Linked DNA regions of Homo sapiens: region 2 is linked to region 1. Evidence: fine-mapped expression QTL. A gene starts in region 1. The other region holds a variant in brackets. All regions are shown on one strand. Distances are from middle to middle.

Evidence for each region. PIP is the estimated chance that this variant, and not a neighbour inherited with it, causes the effect. A credible set is the group of variants that fine-mapping cannot tell apart.
Region 2: its variant is the best candidate, but not a certain one, in a credible set for the expression of CEP78 in substantia nigra (GTEx, PIP 0.65).

Annotation. Positions count from the first base shown.
Region 1 is chr9:78,234,690-78,237,610 of GRCh38, forward strand. CEP78 (centrosomal protein 78) reads left to right here and starts at 1,386. Exons shown (of 17, transcript NM_001330691.3): 1 at 1,386-1,914. The coding sequence starts at 1,662. RefSeq lists an enhancer at 1,115-1,784 and a silencer at 1,410-1,779.
Region 2 is chr9:78,258,010-78,260,930 of GRCh38, forward strand. The region is part of intron 11 of CEP78 (centrosomal protein 78); the gene reads left to right. Among named protein-coding and RNA genes, the nearest start is that of CEP78, 23 kb to the left of the region's middle. The variant T/C (reference allele first, on the strand shown) is at 1,413.

The DNA of each region.
Region 1 (2,921 bases):
ATAGAATGTTATATACTGCTTACTTACATATGTAGCAGAAATATAAAGACATACATTGCAACGATGAATACCAAGTTCAGAAGAGCAGTTATCTCAGAGTCAGAGAGTAGTCGTGATTGGGAAGGTGGTTACACAAAGCTCTTCAACAGGAATGGTAATGTTTCATTTATTAAGCTGGTTTATGAATATACAAGCGTTTACTATATTAAGATTTGAGCATGTCGCACATAAAAATAATTGGTGACCATATCTCCGGAATTTTAGAGACGCCTGCATATGTGTGTTGGAAGTAAGTTGGAGTATCCGGAATGCAGTGGGTGGAACAGGAATGCAATAAACACAATGTCTAAGGCTCTACCGGAGGACTATCATTGCTCTAGCAATTGCATACCAATAGAAGGAGAGGTCAATTATCTGGATTCTTCCACTTAGCTTCCACTTAACTTCCCCGTTCCTCAGTTTCCCCTTTTGTAAAGTAGAATATAATAGTATATTCCTTGAGATGTTAGGAGAATGAAATGATTTCATACTTAAACATTGCTTAAAATAATCCCGAGGACATTATTTCAAATAAGTACTAGTTACAAGGGAGTTAGCCAACATCATCGTCAGTACAAAACAAACTGATTCACAGCAAACACAATAAAGTCCTGAATTCATGAAACACTCTTCAATTTGCCAGGAACCGTGTGAGATATGCAGAAACTACAGAAATTAAGGCTTATTTGTAGATATTAACACAGACATAAAAGATTTAATGACCGCAGTTCACGTTCAATCAGCCGTTCCCACATCCCTTGAGTGCAGTCTCTGTGCTGGCTGGACACTGCAAGCACAGACACATTCCTCAGATGTTTAGACTTTTTTTAAAAGTGCGTTGTTACATCCACATTTCACTTTTTATTTTCTTTCTTTTTTTGAGACGGAGTTTCGCTCTTGTCGCCCAGGCTGGAGTGCAATGGCAAGATCTCGGCTCACTGCAGCCTCCGCCTCCCGGGTTCTAGCGATTTTCCTTCCTCAGCTGGGATTACAGGCGAGTAGCTGGGATTACAGGCGCCCGCCACCATGCCCGGCTAATGTTTGTATTTTTAATTGAGACGGGGTTTCGCCATGTTGGCCAGGCTGGTCTCGAACTCCTGACCCCAGGTGATCCGCTCGCCCCCGCCTCACACAGTGCTGGGATTACAGGCGTGGGCCACCGCGCCCGACCACACATTTCACTTTTATTCGGATCGATCAGTAAACTCTTTCGCAAACCCTCAAACTCTCCCGACCACTATCTCAGGTAGCAGCGAACTCACCCGTCCTCAGGAGGCGGGACCTGCGTGCCGACGCACAGCGAGCACGTTGACGTCTTGGCGCACCGTTCCACGGCACCGCCCACCGGCTTGAATCCCGGCGCCTCAGAGGACTATGAGGCGGGCGCCAACTGCTTGGGCCGCAGGGCGGGAGGCAGCGCGGGAGTGGGGCGTTGAGGGGCCGGCCTAGCTTGGGGCTCTGGCCTTGCGTCTTCCGACCGAATCACCGCTCCTGAGCCCGGTGCGGGGCTGCCGCTATCGCCTGGCCGTGGGTGCCGGAGCGGCCGGGTTGCGACTCAGCGTTCTTGGGTGGGCGCGGGCGGCGTCTCCGCGGCGGGCATCCCCCGAGGCCGCCCTCGGGCCATGATCGACTCCGTGAAGCTGCGCCGCGACAGCGCGGCGGACTTCTTCTCCCACTACGAGTACCTGTGCGCGCTGCAGAACTCGGTGCCGCTGCCCGCCGTGCGCGCCTGTCTCCGGGAGGGCGTGCTGGATTTCAACGCCGACCGCCTCCGCGGGGTGGACTGGGCGCCTCTGCTGAGCACCCTCAAGATCAATAAAGACCTGCCCTTGGTCTCCATCAAGAGCTTCTTCCAGCCCTGGCTGGGGGACACAGGTTTGTAGTTCCCGCCTCCAGGGCCCCTCAGTCGGTGCGGCGAAGTGGGTTTTTAGGTGAGTGGTGTCCATTGTCGGGGTATGTGTGCAATAGAAGGGGTGTGCGGCCTGGACACTCACGAGCTAGGTGAGTGGCTTAAGGTCTCTAGGGCTTCAGTGTGCTCATCCGTAACATGGGCTTAATAACGAGACCCAGGTTATGTGCGCCTTCGCAAGGATTCCCTGCGCTGCTGATGCCTGCAGAGCTCTTAGCACAGTTTGGGACATCATTAAACATTTGACAGATGTTACCTATTTTATTGAATGACTTTGATTTGCCTGATAGAGAACTAAGCAGGTAGGAAATTAATACATGTCAGCCTTTGTCTTTTTTTTTTTTTTTTTTTTTTTTTTTTTGAGACACTGTTTCACTCTGTCGCCCAGGCTGGAATGCAGTGGCAAGATCTCGGCTCACTGCAACCTCCGCCTCCCGGGTTCAAGTGATTCTCCTGCCTCAACCTCCCGAGTAGCTGGGATTACAGGCGCGCGCCACCATGCCCGGCTAATTTTTGTATTTTTAGTAGAGATGGGGTTTCACCATGTTAGCCAGGCTGGTCTCGAACTCCTGACCTCAGGTGATCCGCCCGCTTCGGCCTTCCAAAGTGCTGGGATTACAGGCATGAGCCACCGCGCCCGGCCTGTCTTCATTTTTTAAGGTGTATATAAGAAGTTTGTAAAGTGCTTTACAAATACAAGCCATTTGTAAATGTATAGTGGTATAATTAGGGATCCAGACTCTCTGATTATTCGGAAAATATGTTAGGTCAACTATGATATATGACAAAATGCTGTTATTCCTTTGAGCACTTAGCATTTTCTACATAATGGAGGCAGCTTCCTATAGACGCTAGCTAGGTAACAGGAAGGAACAGTTTGTGCAAAAGTTTTGGAAATAGGAGAGAGTATGCAAGCTGAGTTACAGGACTGGAATTTAGGTTTGAGAAAGAGCAGAGAGAGTTGAGGCTGGAA
Region 2 (2,921 bases), 23 kb after region 1:
TCGTAGTAATGGAAATACTGCCGTGGTCTGTAGCTTTGATTATCAATTTGCATGTGATAGCAAAAATAACTAGCTTGTATCAGATTTAGCACGTATTGGACACTGTTCTAAGTGTTTTGCTTATATTAATTCATTTGATCCTCAGAATAACCTGTGGTAGGTGTTACTATTAGTCCTACTTTTCAGAAAAGAAGCTAAATTTAAGTAAGCCCAAGCTGTACTTAAATTTAGAGTTGGATCAGGGATTTGAGCTTAAGCTTTCTGCCTGTTCTCTTAAACACTGATCTATCTGTCTCTCAAAAAACAAACAGCTCTGCATATAGAACAGAATATAAATATTAACTTTAACAGTGTAAAAGCTAAGTTTGGAAGGTGGACACAGGTGGAAAGAAGGGACAAAAGTATACATGTCCCTATTTTACAAAGCAGGGCATTGAGAGAATTTAGAGTTGATAAACAATTTAAATTTTTAAGTAATGTATATCACTAGAAGTTGAAGAGATCATGACCAATGGAAAAACTAATGGTGATAACAACTTTATTGAGAGGAGTGGCTATAAGTAAGTAAATAAGTAAGAATGAACCAAACTCTTACTTAGTAAAGCAGGAAGTTAGTAAATAATGTCTAAAATCCGGTCATGTAGTTACCTAATACGTTATTTAGAACTAGAGAAGGATTAAAAAGAAGAATGGTTGACTTAAACCTCACACACAAAAAAATCCAAGTAGCCCATAAGTATGGAAAAGTGTTCAGCCATATAGGTAATCAGAGAAAAATGAACTGAAATCAGTATGAGATGCAACTACACTCCTATCAGATTGGCAAAAAATAAAATTTTATAGTGGCAGGTATTGTAGATCTGGAGTGTAATAAGAATCTTCCACCCTGCTTACACCGGAAGTATAAGTGAGCACACCTACTTTGGAAAGCGTTTAGCATTGTCTATCAATGGAAAGTATATAAATACGTTGGGACCCAACAAGTCATCTGAGGGTATATGCACCAGAAAAACAGGTGCAAAAGGGTCCACGTGCATTATTTGTAATAGTCCAACCTGAAAACAACCCGATGTCCATTAAGAATTAAAAATTAGATTGCATTTGTACACTGAGAAAACTATAAAAGTAATAAAATTGAATGAACAAGAGCTACAGGCAACAACAGATGAATTGTAAGAACAATGTTGAAAGAAAGAAGATGCAGAAGTGTGCATTCACTATGATTCCCTTTGCATAAAGTTAGAAGTAGGCAAAACTAGATTGTTAGGGATGCATGCATATAAAGGAAATGATCATTAGGAAAATGAGGACGGTGTTTAATTCTGGGAGAAGGAGAGGGGCTTGTGATGAGTAGAAGATATGGGGGATTTCAGAGATGCTAGCTAGTTGTACTTGCAAACTTGGGTATATGG[T/C]TACATGAGTATTCCCTGATAGTGTGTTTTATGCACTTTTCAGTATGTATAGCATATTTTGTGATTTAAAAAACCTGCTTAAAGAAATGGTTGCCTCTGGGAAGCTGGATGTGTGAGTGAGGAGGAGATTAACTTTCATTTTAAGCTCTTCTCTACTAATTCTGTTCGTATGTTTATTCATTTTGCGTTGATCATATTTTGTACACCAGGCACTCTTCTCAGTTTTATATGTGTGTTAATTTACTCCTTTCAAGAGCCCTATGATACATGAATTTATCTCCATTTTATAGATGAGGAAATTAAGACCTAGAGTTACTGAACTTGCCCAAGGTTATACAGCTGATGGGTAGGGCCAGAACTTTGCCTCAGAGAATCTGAATTTCCAAAAAATAACCTAAAAGAGAAATTTAAGTACTAATTAGTAAGCAAAGAAATGCACATTTAAGGAAGACAGTGCACATTTAAGGAAGACAGTAACCTTTTATCTATTAGAGAAAAACACACATTCTGTCTTTAACACACACATAAATCTTATATTGGCAGGGATTTTCTTTATTCAGCAATTATTTATTGGTTGTCTGCTTTGTGGTACACATAAATGCTGGGGATAAACACTTAATAAAATATACTTCCTTCTCTTGAATATCTTGCACTTTAAGTGGGAAGGTAAGTCAACAGAGTAGAGGTGATATATCCAAGTGATAGACTGTTTCATTGCCAGTAGCAGTATAAAATCTTAGAAATCTTTTGGAAAGCAATTTGGATGTAAGTATTGCAGAGCCTTAAAAATGTTTATTTGCTTTGACCTAAAATTCCTTTTTTATTTATTGCAAGAAAATTATTCTAAATATGGGAGAACAAAACCTTCATGCTTAAAAGTGGTTATTTTATCTTATAATGTTGAAAGTTGGAAACAGTCTTGTTAGCCATAAAGGAATGATTACATGAACCAGTAAGCTGGCTCAGTAGAATATTTTATTTAGCCCACTAAAAAAGTCAAAGTTGGCCAGGTGCGGTGGCTCACGCCTGTAATCCCAGCACTTTGGGAGGCCAAGGCAGGTGGATCATGAGTTCAGGAGATCGAGACCATCCTGGCTAACATGGTGAAACCCTGTCTCTACTAAAAATACAAAAAATTAGCTGTGCGTGGTGGCGGACACCTGTAGTCCCAGCTACTCAGGAGGCTGAAGCAGGAGAATGGTGTGAACCTGGGAGGTGGAGCTTGCAGTGAGCCGAGATCAGGCCACTGTACTCCAGCCTAGGCGACAGAGCGAGACTCCATCTCAAAAAAAAAAAAAAAAAAAGTCAGAGTTATGAGTTCTCTGATTCAGTGTTAAATGGAAGAATGTCTAACATAAAATTGGATATACAGTCTTCCCTCAGCATACTCGGGTTATTCCATGACCCCATCCTCCAGCATATACCCAAATCCATGCAGGCATGCTCAGGCCCCACAGTTGACCTGTGGAACCAGGGTATATAAAAAGTCAGTCCTCCTTATGAACTTTT